4 linked regions of the Homo sapiens genome follow. The protein of the gene in region 1 purifies or fractionates together with the protein of each later gene. This does not show direct contact. Each region holds a gene or a part of one and is shown in the gene's direction. Other genes may lie near its edges.

Region 1 (5,257 bases):
ATGGTTTTATGTTTTAAGTGGAAAGAAATACATAATTATATAAAAATTTGTGTAAAAATCTTTTCTCAATATGCAATTCTTTTTGTACTTTTAATTTTTCTGATGATAAAAAGCAATGGTTATTGTAGAAAATATGCCAAGTACAGTCAGATACATACAACAATCAGAAACAAAATCACTCATAATTCAGGCATCCAGAGTCCACCCCTGGTAGCATTCCAGTGTGTGGAGTCCCCTTGCATTCTCTAGGGCCCCCAAAGCCTTGTTTGTCCTCTTCCAGTGTAGATACATTGAGCGGCTTTGCTTGTTAAAAACAGTTACTGCTTTCATTTACTCAAAGATTCGTCTTTAGTCAATGAGAGTTATTTCTTACAGCTTTGTCTATGTGGTTCTGTTTTATAATGGAAGTCAAGCGAATTCTTTAGTTTTCTGATACTCTAGTTTTTTGTAAGCCCACTCAGGTGTTTGGCTTGCATTAATGGTTTGAGTAAGATTTATACAGATCTGATGGTTTTTTTGTTTTTGTTTTTTTGAGGTGGAGTCTTGCTCTGTCGCCCAGGCTGGAGTGCAGTGGTGTGATCTCAGTTCACTGCAGCCTCTGTCTCCTGGGTTCAAGCGATTCTCCTGGCTCAGCCTCCTGAGTTGCTGGGATTACTGGTGCCTGCCACCATGCCTGGCTAATTTTTGTAGTTTTAGTAGAGACAGGGTTTCTCCATGTTGGCCAGGCTGGTCTCGAACTCCTGACCTCAAGTGATCCACCTGCCCTGGCCTCCCAAAGTGCTAGGATTATAGGCGTGAGCCACTGCACCTCACTGAGATCTGATGCTTTTTTTTTGAGACAGAGTCACTGTCACCCAGGCTGGAGTGCAGTGGCACGATCTCCTCTCACTGCAATCTCCGCCTCCCAGGTTCAAGCAATTCTCCCACCTCGGCCTCCTGAGAAGCTGGGATTACAGGCACATGCCACACTCGGCTAATTTTTATATTTTTAGTAGAGGCAGGATTTCTGTATGTTGGCCAGGCTGCTCTTGAACTCCTGACCTCAAGTGATCCACCTGCCTCAGCCTCCCAAAGTGCTGGGATTACAGGCGTGCGCCACCGTACCCAGCCTTGATCTGATGCTTTTTATTTGTTAATGAGGTAGACTGTTTTTTTCCTGTAACTGTAACTAGTCAGTTTGTCAGATTTTAAGCCAACTGTTTAAGAGAATATTAAAATTAGATCATCTTGAGAACTGTTTAGGTTTATTCAAATGTAATTTATATTAGAATCATAGAATGTTAGAGTTAGAAACAAACTTCTAAGGGTGAGTGCTTTAAAGTTCTTTGACTCAGCTGTAAGTCCTTATTATTATTATTATCATTTTTTGAGATGGGGTCTCATTCTGTCACCCAGAATGAAGGCTGGAGTGCAATGGCATGATCATAGCTTACTGCAGCCTTAAAATTCTGGGATCAAGTGACCCTCCCACCTTAGCCTCCTTGAGTAGTGAGTAATTGGTGCATGCCACCATGCCTGACTAATTTTTTTGGTTTTTGTAGAGATGGAATCTCACTGTGTTGCCTAGGCTGGTCTTGAACATTATTTATTTTTTATAGCACTTTTGAAAGTGAATTTAGTACTGAGCTGATGTGGGATAGTTGATAGGGTAGTCTTCCTGATACGGGACTAGTCAGAGAGTTGTTATTGTTAAAAATTGGATACCCTGATTTAAATTAAACAGGATATGTGGGGAGATAGATTTTATTTAAATGCAACATGGTTGACTGGTCTCATTATCATCTGCAGTCATTTAAACTAGAGAAACTTGTTCTACAGTGTTCACGTTTAGATGTTTTTCCTCACCCATCTTGAGTGTTGTTGCTCTCTCTTCCTTAGGATATGGCCTACCAGATGACATTGTGATAGAAAAGAGGGGCAAAGGCGACACTTTTGTGGACTGCACTGGTGCTGATATTAAAATCTCAGGCATAAAATTTGTTCAGCATGATGCTGTAGAGGGAATCTTAAGTAAGTATCTGAATGTTTGGTATATCATTTGTTCTAAGATTTGAAGGTAAACGGTTCTCTCTATGGAAGATAGAATTTAATGAAATGCCACTCTTGAGTACAGGCATACCTTGTTTTATTGCACTTCACGATGCTGAGTTTTTTTTTTTTTTTTTTTTTTTACAAATTGAAGGTTGTGGCAACCCTGTTTCAAGCCAGTCTGTCGGCACCATTTTCCCAAGAGCATATGCTCACCTTGTGTTTCTGTGTCACATTTTGGTAACTCTCACAATATAGATAATATGCTGATCTGTGAACAGTGATCTTGATGTTACTACTGTAATTGTTTTGGGGTGCCATGAACCACATCCATAAAAGATGGTGAACTTAACTGATAATTGTGTGGGTTTTGACTGTTCCACCGATCAGCCATTCCCCTATCTCTCTCCTTCTCTTTGGGCTACCCTATTCCTTGAGACACAGCAATATTGAAATTAGGCCAGTTAATAACCCTACAATGGCATCTATGTGTTCAAGTGAAAGGAAGAGTCACATGTCTCTCATGTTAAATTTAAAAATTAGAAATGTTTAACATAGTGAGGAAGGCATGTCGAAAGCTGAGATAGGCTGACACCTAGGTCTCTTGTGTCAGTTGGTGAAGTTTTGAATGTAAAGGAAAAGTTCATAAAGGAAATTAAAAGCACTACTCTAGTGAACACATGAATGATAAGAAAGTGAAACAGTCTTATTGCTAATATGGAGAAAGTTTCTGTAGTCTGGATGGAAGATCAAATCAGCCACCACATTCCTTAAATCAGAGCGTATTGCAGAGCAGAACCCTAACTTCCTTCAATTCTGTGAAGACTGAAGGAGGTGAGGAAGCTGTAGAAGAAGAGTTTGAAACTAGCAGCTGTTGGTTCATGAGGTTTAAGGAAAGCAGCCATTTCTGTAACATAAAAGTGCAAGGTGAAGCAGCAAGTGCTGATGCAAGCTACAGAAAGTTAACCAGAAGATCTAGCTAAGGTAATCGATGAAGGTGGATACACTAAACAACACATTTTCAGTGTAGATGAAATAACCTTCTATTGGAAGAAGATTCCATCTAGTACTTTTCATAGTTAGAGAGGAGAAGTCAGTGCTTGGCTTCACAGCTTCAAAGGACAGGCTGACTCTCTTGTTATGAGTGAATGTAACTGGTGACTTTAAGTTGAAGCCAGTGCTCATTTACCATTCTGAAAATCCTAGAGCCCTTAAGAATTATGCCAGATCTACTCTGCCTGTGCCCTAGAAATGGAACAACAAAGCCTGAATGGTAGCACATCTGTTTATAATGTGGTTTACTGAATATTTTAGGCCCATTATTGAGATTTACTACTGAAAAAAAAAATTCCTTTAAAAATATGATTGCTTATTGACAATGTACCTGGTCATCTGAGAGCTATGATGGAGGTGTACTGGGAGATTAATGTTGTTTTCATGCCTGCTAATAATATCCATTCTGCAGCCCATGGATCAAGGAGTAATTTCGACTTTCAAATCTTACTATTTGAGAAATACACTTCCTAAGGCTATACCAGCTATTGATAGTGATTCCTCCGATGGGTCTGGGCAAAGTCAATTGAAAAGTTTCTGGGAAGGAGTCATCATTCTAGATGTCATTAAGAACATTTGTGATTCATGGGAGGAGGTTAAAATCTCAACATTAACAGGGGTTCTGGAGAAGTTGATTCCAGCCCTCATGGATGATTGAGGGGTTCAAGACTTGAATGGAGGAAGTAACTGCAGATGTGGTGGAAATAGCAAGAGAACTAGAGCCTGATGATAGCAAGTAGAACCTCAAGACGTGACTGAATTGCTACAATCTTATAACAAAATTGGAACAGATGAGGAATTGCTTCTTATGGATGAGCGAAGAAGGTGGTTTCCTGAGATAGAATTTCCTGGGGAGGATGCTGTGAACATGGTTGAATGACAACAAATGATTTAGAGTATTAGGTAAACTTGGTAAAGCAGAGGCAGACTTTGATGGGATTGACTCCAATTTTGAAAAACCTTCTACTGTGTGTAAAGTGCTATCAAACAAGATCACATGCTACAGAGAAATCCTTTCATGAAAGGAAGAGTCAATCAATGTGGCAAACTTCATTGTTGTCTTATTTTTAAAAATTGCCATAGCCACCTTAACCTTCAGCAAACACCATTCTGATCAGTAAGCAGCCATCAACATTGAGGTAAGACCCTCCACCAGCAAAAAGATTATGTCTTGCTGAAGGCTCAGAGGATTGTTAGCATGTTTTAGCAAAACAAAGTATCTTAAATTAAGATGTATATATTGTTAAAAAACATAATGCCTTTGTACACTTAATAGATGCATTATAAACATAGTACTCATTAGTATAAACTCATATGCTCATTAGTATAAACACAACTTTTATTTTTTTTTGTTTTTAGAGACAGTCTCACTGTCATCTAGGCTAGAGTGCAATAGCATGATCATAGCTCTCTGTAGCCTCAAACTCCTGGGCTCAAGCAATTCTGCCTTTGCCCCCCAAGTAGCTGGGACTACAGGCGTGTGCCATCACGTCTTGCTAATTTTTGTATTTTTTAGAGATGGGGTTTCACGATGTTGCCCAGGCTGGTCTCAGACTCCTGGCCTTAAGTGATCCACCCACCCCAGACTCCCATAAACATTTGTATGCACTGGGAAACCAAAAAAATTGTGTGACTCACTTTAATTGTGATATTTCCTTTATTGTGGTGGTTTGGAACTCAACCTGCAATATCTCTGGAGTATGAGTGTGTATGGAAGACTGATTATTTATGAAGCTGGGCGTGGTGGCTCACGCCTGCAATCCCAGCACTTTGGGCAGCCGAGGAGGGTGGATCACCTGAGGTCAGGAGTTTGAGACCAGCCTGGCGAACATGGTGGAACCCTGTCTCTACTAAAAATACAAAAACTAGCCAGGTGTGGTGATACACGCCTATGATGCCATCTACTCTGGAGGCTGAAGCAGGAGAATTCCTTGAACCTGGGAAGCAGAGGTTGCAGTGAGCCAAGATCGCACCACTGCACTCCAGCCCAGGCAACAGAGCAAGGCTCCGTCTCCAAAAAAAAAAAAAAGTTTACTCATTTAGGCTGGGCGCAGTGGCTTATGCCTGTAATCCCAACACTTTGGGAGGCTGAGGCGGGTGAATCACCTGAGGTCAGGAGTTCGAGACTAGCCTGGCCAACATGATGAAACCCTGTCTCTACTAAAAAATACAAAAA
Region 2 (4,378 bases), on another chromosome or scaffold:
AACCACTAAGAAAGTTGTTTTCTTAGTGTTTTAAAAAGTACAAATAAATTAAAATGGTATGCTAAACATATGTAATTTAAAATCAAAAAGGGAAGAATAAAAAAGACACAACAAAGCAAGGAAAGTAAATCCAACTGTACGTGTAATTATATGACATGTGAAAGGTCTCTGTGCCCCAAACAGACAGGGCAGATTATCAGATAGAAAAACAAGATCTAACTGTATGCTGTCTGCTAGAGAACAGGAAAAGACGCAGCGTACAAACATCAGCTGTCATAGGAGAGCTTGAATGGCTGTACTCATACCAGACAAAACAGATGTTAAGAAATATTAGAAACCAGCCTGGCCAACATGGTGAAACCCTGTCTCTACAAAAATCACCTGGGTGTGGTGGCGCACACCTGTAATCCCAGCTACTCGGGAGGCTCAGGTATGAGAATCACTTGAACTCGTGAGATGGAGGTTGCAGTGAGCCGAGATTGCGCCACTGCACTCCAGCCTGGGTGACAAACCAAGACCCTGTCTCAAAAAAAAGCTAGAAACAAGAAGGAGCAAGGACTTCACAGCCAGAAACAGGCCAATACAGCAGGAAGATACAGCAATGATACGTGTGAATGCATCTAACCACAGAGCCCAAAATCCATGAAGCAAACACCGATCGAATGGAAAGAAATGGATCATTTATTAATTAGAATTGGAAATGGCAGCTGGGCACGGTGGCTCGGGCCTGTAAACCCAGCACTTTGAAAAGCGGAGGCAGGCGGATCACGAGGTCAGGAGATTGAGACCATCCTGGCTAACATGGTGAAACCCTCGTCTCTACTAAAAATACAAAAATTAGCTGGGAGTACAGGGCGCACGCCTGTAATCCCAGCTACTCGGGAGGCTGAGGCAGGAGAATCGCTCGAACCCGGGAGGCGGAGGTTGCAGTGAGCCGAGATCGCGCCACCGCACTCCAGCCTGGGGGACAGATGAAGACTCCGTCTCAAAGAAAATAAAATAAAAAAATGAAAAAAAAACTTCACGGATTGAATTACGTAGAAAGCCAGTTTACAAATGTGGACAAAAACGCGATAAGCAAGCTTCTGTTTAGGGGGAATGATGGCGTGTGCCTCTTCAGGGACCGCTTGGAGCAGTTAGAAAGGAAGCGGGAGCGGGAGCGCAAGATGCGGGAGCAGCAGAAGGAGCAGCGGGAGCAGAAGGAGCGCGAGCGGCGGGCAGAGGAGCGGCGCAAGGAGCGGGAGGCCCGCAGGGAAGGTAGGCGGCGCGGTGGGCAGCTGTGCTCGGCGGGACGCGTGTCTGCTGCCCCCTGGTGCTGGGCACTTGCTGTCACAGGCGGGCGCTTGGTTCCGGTGCTTGCTTTTCGCCCCTGCCTTTTTTTTTTTTTTGGAGGCAGAGTTTTGCTCTTGTCCCCCAGGCTGGAGTGCGGTGGCGCGATCTCGGCTCACTGCACCCTCTGCCTCCCGGGTTCAAGTGATCCTCCTGCCTCAGCCTCCGGAGTAGCAGGGATTACAGGCACCCGCCACCATGTTCAGCTATTTTTTTATATTTTTAGTAGAGACAGGGTTTCACCGTGTTAGCCAGAATAGTCTCTTGATCTCTTGGCCTCGTGATCCACCCACCTCGGCCTCCCAAAGTGCTGCGATTACAGGCGTGAGCCACCGCGGCCGGCCAGTACGAGCTTTTATAGTCACCCACGTCCTCACCTTAATGGAGATCTTTATTTCTTCACCCAGCTTCCGGTTTCTGTCTCGCGTCCTTTCCTTACACCCCACACAACTCCCTGGAGCTTATTCTTCAAGGCAGGTCTAGGTCTAGTAGTAATGAACTCCCTCTGCTTTTGTTTATCTGAGAATATCCTCATTTCTCCCTCATCTTTGAAGGAAAGTTTGCTGGATACGTGGTTCTTGGTTGACAATTTTGTTGTTGTTGTTTTGAGACAGAGTCTTCTTCTGTTGCCCAGGCTGGAGTGCAGTGGAGCGATCATAGCTCACTGCAACCTCGAACTCCTGGGCACAAGTGATCTTCCCACCTCAGCCTCCCGCGTAGCTGGGACCTACAGGCGTAGCGTGTGCCACCACACCTGGCTCATTTTTCAGTAGAAACAAGGTGTCCCTGTATTGCCCAGGCTGGTCTTGAATTCCTGGGCTCAAGGAACCCTCATGCCTAGCTGACAGTTTTTCCTTTTCACTTGGACTATTTCAGCCCATTGTCTTCTGGCCTCCAAAGTTTCTGATGAGAAATCTGATGATCTTATAGAGGATCCCTTGGATGCTTTAATCTGATGACCTGATTGAGGATCCCTTGGATGCTTTGAAGATTCTCTTTGCCTTAGGCTTTCAACTGTTTAATAATGGGTTTTCCTGTGGGCCTCTTGACTTCATTCTACCTGGAGTTCACTGAGCCTCTCTAATGTTTATATTTACGGTTTTCATCCAATGTGGGGGTTTTGAGGAATTCTTCAGATACCCTCTCTGCTCCTCTCCTCCCTCCTGGGCTCCCACAGATCTGTTGGGGTCCCCGAGGCCGCTCAGCACTGCTCCCTTTTCTTCAGTCTCTTCTGCTTTCTTTTCCTCAGACGATGTGATTTTATTGTCTTCAGGCTCACCGATTATTTCTTCTGCCTGCTCACATCTGCCTGTGAGTTTCTGTTGTGAATATTTACTTTTTAGTGTCTATTGTGAGCATGTACTTATTAGCTCTGGAATTTCTCTCTGGTTTCTTGTTGGATCTTCTGTCTCTGTTGATATTTCCGTCGTGTTCACGCGTCATTTTCTTGACTTTCTCCACATCTTCCTTTCGTTCTCTGAGGAACTGAAGGTTAAGACAGTTCCCTAAAGTCTTTGGGACATCTACCGTCAGGTGATTTTCAGGAACCGTGTCTGTTGGCTTCTTTTTTTCCCCTCTGAATGGGACATACTGTCCTATTTCTTTGTTTCTCTTGTGTTTTTCTTAGTCAAAAAAATGGACATTTGATTCTCATGATGTGATTCTTCCTGGTCCCCACTCAAGGGTGTGCACTTGTTGTTTTGGTTGTGCTGGGCTGTGTCTGTGGGGTCGGCCTGTTGTGGAAACTCAGGGTCTTCACGGGTCTTTTCTGAGCCTGAGCCTTTTCCTGGTCACGTGCAGCCACTTTTTAACGTTCCCGTCAATACAGATGTTTTTAATGTTCTTGTCCTGAAGTGTCTGCCTCCTAAAGGGGGAATAGAGAGAAATGAAGGGGGCAACGGGGGACGTGGTGCTCATGCCCTGGAAGTACCTTCAGCTTGGGGGTGGCCGTGGCTGCTGCCTCTTCATGCCTCTGGGGTGGGACACGCAGTCATCACACTGACCTCGGGTGTGTGTGTCCGTCTGCCCACCTGGGTCCGGCGAGCTGCATGCAGGCTGCTGCCTGCCAGCGGGGAGTGAGGTGGGAGCCACTAATGTGCGAAGCGGTGACGTTGATTAATGAATCACAGTTTACTCTCCAAGATTCCCCCTGAAGTTGCAAACCTTCAGTAGACTCCAGAGCACCTCAGTAGTTGCACAGGCCTGATCCTGTGATGCAAGTGTTGTCTCGGTGGGGAGACTGATTCCCAGTGCTTCCTACTCCATCTTTCCAGAATCTTCTCCCGCCCCTTCCTTTTTGACCAGTGAAGATCAGTCTAGAAGGTCCACCTGGGTCCTCGGGCTCACGGCCTCCAGGTTGGAGCTTTTTCTCCCTGGGCTTCCTGGGAGACCTCTGGCCTCTGACCCCGATGCTGTCAGCACCCTGTGCACGCTGTGGGTGTGTCTGCCAGGTGCGGGTGTGGGAGACGAGGCAGCTGTGCCGGGTGGGGCCTTTTGAGGAAGGCAGTGCTGCTAGTGCCATCTCCCTCTCTGCCCTGCGCGCCAGTGTCTGCACATCACCGAACGATGAGAGAGGACTACAGCGACAAAGTGAAAGCCAGCCACTGGAGTCGCAGCCCGCCTCGGCCGCCGCGGGAGCGGTTCGAGTTGGGAGACGGCCGGAAGCCAGGTGAGGCCAGGCCGGCGCCTGCGCAGAAGCCAGCACAGTGTGAGTCTTTTCTGGGGGATGTTTGGCATAAGTGTGTAGGATTCATTTAAAGCCCAGCTAAGTAACCGCTTCAGAAGAAAGTGAGAGATGTGCTGGCTGAAGTCCTCTCGTGTCGTGAGAGGGACCGTGAGTGTCTGTGTGCGGCCAGGACACAGGACGTGTGTTTATCCGCTGGGACATTCGCCACTGGCCCCGTTAGAGAAGTGGCTTCCAGCGTCTCTGGATGAGCTGGTTTCCGACCAAGCAAAGTTAATCGTTACGTGAAAGGCACTAGTTTTGGGGTGGTGGTAGCTTGTTTGTTTAAAAACATTTCCCCAAATTCACCTTTATGGTTTATCTCAT
Region 3 (4,378 bases), on another chromosome or scaffold:
CAGTTTAAGTCAGAGGCCACTGTGCAGAGTACCACTTTTTTTTTTTTGCTAACTTTTCTTCTGCATTTTGATAATAGAAAAAAGCCTCCAATCCAGTATGTCCGTTGTGAGATGGAAGGATGTGGAACTGTCCTTGCCCATCCTCGCTATTTGCAGGTCAGTGAAGTTGTTATATAAGAGCCTTTCAGGTTGTGTTCCATTACTTGTTCTTGCACCACGAGACTTTAATTTGTTGGCTTGTGTAGGCTTTATCATTGACATGTAATGTCAAGAAAAGTCTTTCTTTAAACATAAAATGACTTTAACCCATTTATGCCTAGTGTTCCATTATTAGAATGCTAAGCTTGGGCAAGTTATTTATATCCTACTGTTCAAGGTCATCACCAAGGTCTGATTTTTCACAAAAATACATTTGCAACCTCCAGCATAAATGGGTTAATCATGATTAGTCCATTTGTGCTGCTATAATAGAGTACCTGAGACTGGGTAATTTACAAAGAACATATATTTATTTATTAGCTTGTGGTTCTGGAGACTGGAAAGTCCAAAAGCATGGTGCCCACATCTCACAAGAGCCTTTTAACTGTGTCAGCCCATGGTGGAAGGGCAAGAATGGGTTGAACTTGCTTTTGTAACAAATCTACTCCAATGATAATATCAACCCATTTATATAAGGGTAGAGCCTTTAAGACCTAAGCACCTCCCATTAGGTCCCGCCTTCCAACACTATCACATTGGGGATTAAGTTTCCAACACATGAACTGTGGTGAACACATCCAAATTCATAGCACCTCCTGTTTAAAAAGAGGTGACTAAGAATCTGAACCCACATAGAGAACTTTCGTTGGAATCTTTCAATATTACAGTAATTCCCAATGTGGTGTAAATACAGAGTAACATTTTATTTTAAAGTGATTTAGAAAAAAAGTAAAATTAGAACTCAAACCTGTGATTTCTTGGGTACTGTGTAGAATGAATAAAAGACTTTTAGTTGAGGTTTTGTTTTTATTTTTCTTGAGTAGATTATTATTATTATTTTTGATGAGTAAACGTACCACTTATATTTAGGTCTGGCAGGAAACGTGAAAGTGAAATACTGCTTAGGAAATACCTGTTTGATCTTCAGCAACAAATATAACATGACACGAAGGCCTTCTTCTGGATCGTGGTTCAGTTATAACAATAGCCGCTCCTCCTCTGCTGTGTGCCATTTGCTGCTCTAAAGCACAGTACAATACATAATCTCTTATCCCCATAACAACACTTTGAGATGGTTATTGTTACCTCCATTTTACAAATGAGAACTGGAGCTTGAAATATTTGTCTCCTAAGATTACAAAGGCTAGTGAATGACAGACCCAGATTGGAAACCAGGTCTGTGTATTTCCACCTATGTTCTTAGCCACTTTATTATACTCCCTCACTATCCATGTGTGAAATCTAAGTATTTGGTTTTCCTTCAGTACTTTTGACTTAGCAAAGACAAGTACTTTCAGGAAGCCTTAATTTTTTTTTTTTCGCCCCTTTCACTTTCTCTGTTTTAGCACCACATTAAATACCAGCATTTGCTGAAGAAGAAATATGTATGTCCCCATCCCTCCTGTGGACGACTCTTCAGGCTTCAGAAGCAACTTCTGCGACATGCCAAACATCATACAGGTACTTTTAAAATGTGTTTATCAAGTAGGTAATTGCACTGTGCTTTAGTTTTGCATGTTGGTAATGATAACGTTTTTCTAACATAAGTCTTAAAAGATTCTATAGTCAAGTGCGGGGAAAAGGTGTGAAAATAAAATGTAGTAAGACAAATTTTACAAGGGATGGGCAGACTAGGACTTTTGAATTTTTATCCTTTGACTTCTTGAACTTCTATGACCGGGATAATGATCTTCTATTGAGCATTTATTCTGTATCAACTGTGGACTAAATACGTTATGTATATTATTGCTAATTAGTCTATTCAACACCACTAAATTTGTTTATATTGATCTTATTTTACAGCTAAGAAACTAGAAGCTTGGCAGGATTAAGTAACCTGCCCATGGTCACATAGCTAGTTTTTAGGAGAAGCATAATACTCTGCTGCTATTGAAACTGTGAAGTCTAGCTGTTGAATTTGCATGTAAACTCCCATAGGAACTGTCAAAAAGAGTTGCTGAGTGTCTGCAATATGTATTATAGAATAGACTCAAATTCAATTTATTTGTAACCACTGACCATCTCAGTGCAGTGTACCTAATAGGAACAAATTGGGTGCATACCACTGAGTATGTCCCAGACACTTGATAATTACACATTACCTTCTCAACAGTCTTAGAGAGTAAGTCTAGGAATTCTAGTTGTAGAAATATGTCTCCTGCCCAAGGTCATACTGATAAATGAAATAACTCCTTCATTTACTGTAGGAAAGTTACTTAACTTCTCTTTTCACTTTTCCTTCTCTGTGTATTAAGGATACCAATATCAGTTATTGTAGGGATGAAATGAGATAACATAAAATGCTATTGACTACACAGAGCCTGGCACAATACCAGGATTGAACTTGAATCTTAATCACTCCAAAGTCTACAGTTTTCTTATACCATGTTTCTTCAGAGTTATTTCCACAAGTAACAGTTATTTCTGTTTCTTGATAGGTACTGCAATTTCTCTGTTCCTTCTGCTCCCTGTTAATACTGTTTTATGCCATAGAAAAGTTGTTTCTGACAGCCACTTTAGATTGTTTTAGTTAAATATCAAAAGCGTATGAAAAACTTTTATAAATTCAGTCCATTTCAAATATTTATATTTGGTTAATACAATTTATGATGTTTTACTTTTGCAAATTAGTATATACAGACTTTTTTTTGCAAATGTCATTTATTTAGCAAATAGATGCCCCACACAGGTTTGTCCTGCTATGGAACTGGAAATGTGGACATGACCTGGGAGATGCTAAGAGTTTCCTAAGTTAGAACTGTGCGTTTTTAGACCTTGCTATATAAAGTATGGAATACAGACCAACCAGCATTGACATCATTTGGGTTCTTATTAGAGATACAGAATCTCAGGCCCTGCTTCAGACCTGCTGAATCAGCATATACATTTAATAAGCTATCCAGGTGATCTCTAAGCTGTTTGGAAAGGAGTATAAGATTAAATTGGATATTGTTCACCTTTTAACTTAAATTCATGTTTTCATTCTCATTAATTCTGGTAATTTGAAGCAAAAGGAGTAGAAAATGTAGTGGTCATTAATTCAACAAATATATATAGAGAGCATCTCTTTGTGCACGGGCTTCCCAAACACGGTAAAGAAATGAATAAGTACAATGCTCCTTTTTCCTCCTCATAGATTCCACACCGTGTTACCACATTCATCAGAAATCCTGCATAATGGGGTTGAGGGTGTTGTGAGTGACAAAGGGAGGTAGTTGAAAGGTGCAGAAGATGGGTAGGAGAATAAGGTAAAGTAGTACAGGTGTTATTTACATATATTTGATAGCAGCAACTCCAGTCTTTTGAGAAAAGTTTATCTTGAGTAACATTTTTTAAACCTGAAACAGGGTATGATTACCTTTAGATCAGTTTTCTTCTATACAGTGCCAAGTTCTTGTTTTTTGTTTTTGTTTTGTTTGAATGCCAGATTCTTTCTGTGTAATCATTCAGTTTTCATTGTCTGTGAAAAAAATTGTTTACTCCTTAAAGGAGTAAAATATATGGAAAATATAGTTGTTTACTTGCTAACCACTTGGTATCCAAGACCTGGATTAGTGGTAAAATTGAGATTAGGATTCCATTTCTTATATTTTTATCTAGTTTTTCTGTTTGTTTTTGTTTTTTTTTAAACAGGTCCTTATGCTACTGAATGTTGGATTTTTTTTAAAGCAATACTTTTCTTTTTTAAATTTTGTTTACCCAAAGTGTTTATACATTGAAAACAGCATTGCTTTTACTCTAAATTGCCTGCCCCATCATCTGCTTACTTACTGTAAGGGAAAATATTTACAGGGTATCTAAATAGAACACTAACCACAGTATTTTCTTCATAGATCAAAGGGATTATATCTGTGAATATTGTGCTCGGGCCTTCAAGAGTTCCCACAATCTGGCAGTGCACCGGATGATTCACACTGGCGAGAAGCCATTACAGTGAGTATTATTTACTGGTGAACATCTGGGTGAGAAGGATATATGCCCTACTTGAAGGTTTGCCGCTTTACAAACATATTAGTTGCCACTGCTGTTTACTTTCATCAAATAAATGAGTGGATATTGATTGGGGGCATTAGTTAGTAGCCTTTTTCTTAGTTTCCCTCTGTTTTTCAGGCAAACAGAAGAAGATCAGATTAGTTTTCCATCTAGTAACATTTCCCAATCCTTCAAAAGAAGTATGTTA
Region 4 (4,378 bases), on another chromosome or scaffold:
GTCTAGGGACACTTCCCATTTTCTTGTCGAATGCAATAACTACTTTCTAATAAAGGTGAAGTTATATATTCTACTTTGGCATTCTCCTTTGTCTATGTAATATTTTAGGTTTGGTTGACCTTGGCAGATCATTATTTGCACAGTATAGCCATTGACTGGGACAAAACCATGCGCTTCACTTTCAATGAAAGGAGTAATCCTGATGATGACTCCATGGGAATTCAGATAGTCAAGGTAATGCCCCTGAACTTGGCCTGTCATCCTAATATAGAAGAAAGACTCTAAAAGCCAGTTGCTTTTTGGACAGAGGATCAAATGATCTCTACCTTCTGGTTTGAATGTCTGTATATTTTCTGCCTTCTCATTTCATTAGCTTTTTCATGGGGAACCTTGACAATGTGTTGTCTGCATAAATTTAAATGTTACCGGTAAGAAGAAAATATTTGCAAATGAGCTTTCATTCACATTCAACTTATTAATCTTCCTCACACTATAGGAAGGACGCTTTGTCATGGGTCAATGATGCCAACTGGATTTTTATATAAAAGTCACTGATTGAAAAAGTTAGTTAAGTATATTTCATATGAGAATGATTTGGTTCTTATTAGGGTCTTTGATAGTTTCTTAACTGCCAATTTCTAAAGACAGGTTCACAGGTGGGGCCTACTTCCAACCAAATACTTGTGGGTTCAAGCCAGCTGTGTAGGCAGTTGTGGCTCGCTTACCTGGATTATTACAGTTGAACAGAGCCTGGTGCTAAAAGCCAAGGATACTGATTCTGTTTGATCCCAGTATTATCCTCTTACATAAGGCTCTAGCACATGGTTTTTGATTTTATATGAGTACATTACAGTGTGATACTCAGCTGGGGTTTTAAAAGGAAAGTTGTTTCATCCAAATTTTGGCCACCTCAAGATGGCTAATGTTTTGGCATATTTGGAGGTTTTTTTTTAAGGAGGAAGTACTAACTAAAATGAGCTACTTTCTGTTCTAACTTGGTTTCAGACAAATGCTAAAAAAGTTATGCAATTTTACATTGTGTACTAAAAAGCCTTTGCATTATTCACATTTAAGCTATATATTTGGAATTTTAGAATATGTTTCGCAGAGATGAAGTATCTCATATTTGAAATATTTCCTTTTTGTCTAACTGGTGAATTAAGGCAATGCACCTTTTGTAACAATCATCTTTTAAGAGTATCTTTTGTTTTCTCATTGAAGTGAATGCTGTGTCAGTTAATGACTTCAGCTCTTGAAAATTGTAGTTCCTGCTTAGTAATTAAATTATAGATATTGCCTTCATTAAAGCATAGCAAATATTTCTGTCTTTCTTATATACATTCATAAAATAATTTGAATAGAATGATTTTTCTCTCTATAATCACATTTTTTGCTATTTTGATTTCACTCCTTTATGTTATTTAGAGTTTTGATAGCTAAATATTATACTTTATTTGTAGAAAGGAAGAATGTTAGCCTCAATCATACATGTATTGTGATGACTATTGTTTTACCTGAGAAATATTATTAAAACAATCAATTTACATGAAATTATACTGTAATTATTGTTAATTCTGAGCTACTTTTTGTGGTAATCCTGGAAACGTTTTAAGTTGAAAATTTGCCTGACTGAAATTCCCCTTGCAAATCTCTCTTAAACAGCATATTACAAAATATTATGAAAAAGAAAGCTAAAAATGCATTTTGGCTCATATGTATAAAAACATACACATTTTAAAAAAATTTTATGTCGATGATTTGACTCTGTTTATTGAGTCAAAAAAAAAAGGTATTGTTTTGGAAAGAATATTAGGAGTTATTTTTGAAAATATTGTTTCCCTTCCATTTAGGACCTTCACCGCACAGGCTGTAGTTCTTACTGTGGCCAGGAGGCTGAGCAGGACAGGGTTGTGTTGAAGCGGGTGCTGCTGGCCTATGCCCGATGGAACAAAACTGTTGGGTACTGCCAAGGCTTTAACATCCTGGCTGCACTAATTCTGGAAGTGATGGAAGGCAATGAAGGGGATGCCCTGAAAGTGAGTAGCAGGCTCTGACAAAGGCCATGGACATTCTTCTGAGAGTGAGAAATTGGAACCATAATTTCTCTTCCTTGATGTCTCATCCTTTTCCAAGGTGTTTGCCACACCTTTGTAATGACCTATGATAGCATTTCCTCCAGGTTAGAGCCATGTCAAGTGACAGATTCATGTAGCTGCCAACTATGAGGCAAATGATTATGTATTTAGTCTCATTTATAAGACATCATATTTTTAAAGCAAGTTAAATATTAATTGTATTAATTATTCATTGCTGTTCAACAAATTAGCTGCTTAAAACAGCAAATGTATTATCTTACAGTTTCTTTGCGTCAGAAATCTAGGCACAGCCTAACTGCCTCAAGGACACATCACTGTTGCTGTTGGTTGGTGTTGCGATCTCATCTGAAGGCTCAATTGGGGGTGGGCATTGGCTTTCGAGTTTGTTTATGTGGTTGTTAGCAAGATTTAATTCCTCACAGGCTGTTGGACTGAGGCCATGGTTCCTTGCTGGCTGTTGACTGGAGGCCTTTTATAGTTCCTTGCCATGTAGCCTCTCCATCTCTCAACCCAGTGGCTGGCACCCCCAAAGTGAACATGAGAGTAAAAGATAGTGAGCAAGGCAAAAGAGTTTAAGTTACAGATTTGTAGCCAAACATCAGAAGTGACATCCCACTATATTTCCATATTCTGTTCTTTAGAAGCCAGTCACCAGGTTCAGCTTATAGTCAAGGAGAAGGGCTCATACAAGGGTGTGACTCAGGGGTCATGTTAGAACTGCCTCCCACACTAGTTATGCTTAATTTTGATTGGATTGCCTTATTGAGTTGCTTTACTCTTTCATATTTGGAGCAAGATATGGAGGAGTTGGGCTGAGAGTGAGTGTCTAAGGAAGGTGTTTGCATGGAGAAGCATTATGGAATTGACTTACATTAATATCTTTTAATCTTTGATGCCTACGACCTTTATTAGTTAAAACAAATTTTAAAAACATGTTGAGATGGGGCACTAGTGATTTAAGCTTAGTTTGCATGTGTGTCAGTGAGTCACCAGAAATAGAGTGCTTATGAGAAATGAAGCATTTTAAATGTGGAGGCTAATGCCTATTTGCTTAAGGCAATGTGGGATTACTAATTCATATTTGAACCTTTAAACTGCTCTTGATTGCAATGCTTTGTGATGTATGAGATAGATACTTAGTCTTCGTGTTCAAGAACCGCCCCCCGACACAACCCCACTCCCAACAACTTGTGTTTGACTATGGTGAATACCTTATTGATACTGTCAATCACTGATTAATGTGATGTGGAAAAATAAACAAATGTTCCTCTTGGTTTTATACAAATGATGGTGGACTAGTTATAAATCCAGCTTGACATGATCTAAATCTGTATTCAACCTCTCACTTTTTCCATTGATGTATTTAAGGAAGCAGCTTTGAAGTTACTTGTTCATCAAAAAGGTGAGGGTAGGAGAGGGAGGAAGGCAGTGACAAATACATGACTTTAAGATGTTTTTTATTAAGAAGCAATTTTGTTTACTCAGTCTATCAGCTTTCATCAGTTTTTTTTTTCAGATGGAATTGGTATGATGATAAAATGGGAATTGTTTTCTAGAGCAATTGGAATAAGTGAATCAAGTTAGGGGGTCGGATGGAGATGTTCAGGGAAGGAAATGTACATGCCAATCAAATTATAAAAGGGCTCAGTAATACTTGAGAAACTGGAAATTAAAAACTCACGTAAAAATATGGATTAGATAAAGATGAGAAACTGAATATTTCAGCCCCCACGAAAATGGGCTCCATGCAATGAGATGATGTCATCATCCTTTAAGAGTGTATAGATCTTGTGTTTAGACATTTAATATGCAGAGGAAGGTTGGCTTCATGAAGAAACACTTCTGATGTTGAGGAAAATATTGGACATCTATTTTTTCAGCATGGCCTCTACAAGTCATAATTACTAAGGAAACATATAGTTTATTAGAAATAGGTGAACCATTTTTCCTGCTATTTAGCACTTAAGTTTTTACTTAGCAAATCTTTCATTTTCAACCTTTTGTTAAAAATTCAGAGCTCTCCCATTATTTAGCCAAATCTTTTTTTTTTTTTTTTTTTTGAGATAGAGTCTTGCTCTGTCACCCAGGCTAGAGTGCAGTGGCATGATCTTGTCTCACTGCAACCTCCACCTTCCAGGTTCAAGCAATTCTCCTGCCTCAGCCTCCCGAGTAGCTGGGATTACAGGTATACACCACCACGCCCAGCAAATTTTTATATTTTTAGTAGAGATGGGGTTTCACCATGTTGACCAGGCTGGTCTCAAACTCCTGACCTCTCAGGT

What was found. Proteins that work in one complex are often made in the same cells at the same time.
Region 2: the proteins of SHCBP1 (region 1) and CDK11B purify together in Homo sapiens (affinity purification with mass spectrometry, with the first as the bait; one large-scale study listed by BioGRID). This does not show direct contact.
Region 3: the proteins of SHCBP1 (region 1) and ZFP91 fractionate together in Homo sapiens (co-fractionation; one large-scale study listed by BioGRID). This does not show direct contact.
Region 4: the proteins of SHCBP1 (region 1) and TBC1D30 purify together in Homo sapiens (affinity purification with western blotting; one study listed by BioGRID). This does not show direct contact.

What each region holds. Positions count from the first base shown.
Region 1 is NC_000016.10:46,596,584-46,601,840, reverse strand, and holds part of SHCBP1 (SHC SH2 domain-binding protein 1), read left to right. Parts: intron 1-1,878; coding exon 1,879-2,010; intron 2,011-3,493; coding exon of another isoform or gene 3,494-3,555; exon of another isoform or gene 3,556-4,482; intron 4,483-5,257. UniProt on the Homo sapiens protein: May play a role in signaling pathways governing cellular proliferation, cell growth and differentiation. May be a component of a novel signaling pathway downstream of Shc. Acts as a positive regulator of FGF signaling in neural progenitor cells.
Region 2 is NC_000001.11:1,642,005-1,646,382, reverse strand, and holds part of CDK11B (cyclin-dependent kinase 11B), read left to right. Parts: intron 1-1,093; coding exon of another isoform or gene 1,094-1,120; coding exon 1,121-1,257; intron 1,258-3,874; coding exon 3,875-3,997; coding exon of another isoform or gene 3,998-4,036; intron 4,037-4,378. UniProt on the Homo sapiens protein: Plays multiple roles in cell cycle progression, cytokinesis and apoptosis. Involved in pre-mRNA splicing in a kinase activity-dependent manner. Isoform 7 may act as a negative regulator of normal cell cycle progression.
Region 3 is NC_000011.10:58,612,685-58,617,062, forward strand, and holds part of ZFP91 (E3 ubiquitin-protein ligase ZFP91), read left to right. Parts: intron 1-77; coding exon 78-156; intron 157-1,544; coding exon 1,545-1,659; intron 1,660-4,031; coding exon 4,032-4,131; intron 4,132-4,378. UniProt on the Homo sapiens protein: Atypical E3 ubiquitin-protein ligase that mediates 'Lys-63'-linked ubiquitination of MAP3K14/NIK, leading to stabilize and activate MAP3K14/NIK. It thereby acts as an activator of the non-canonical NF-kappa-B2/NFKB2 pathway.
Region 4 is NC_000012.12:64,830,269-64,834,646, forward strand, and holds part of TBC1D30 (TBC1 domain family member 30), read left to right. Parts: intron 1-108; coding exon 109-234; intron 235-1,850; coding exon 1,851-2,036; intron 2,037-4,378. UniProt on the Homo sapiens protein: May act as a GTPase-activating protein for Rab family protein(s).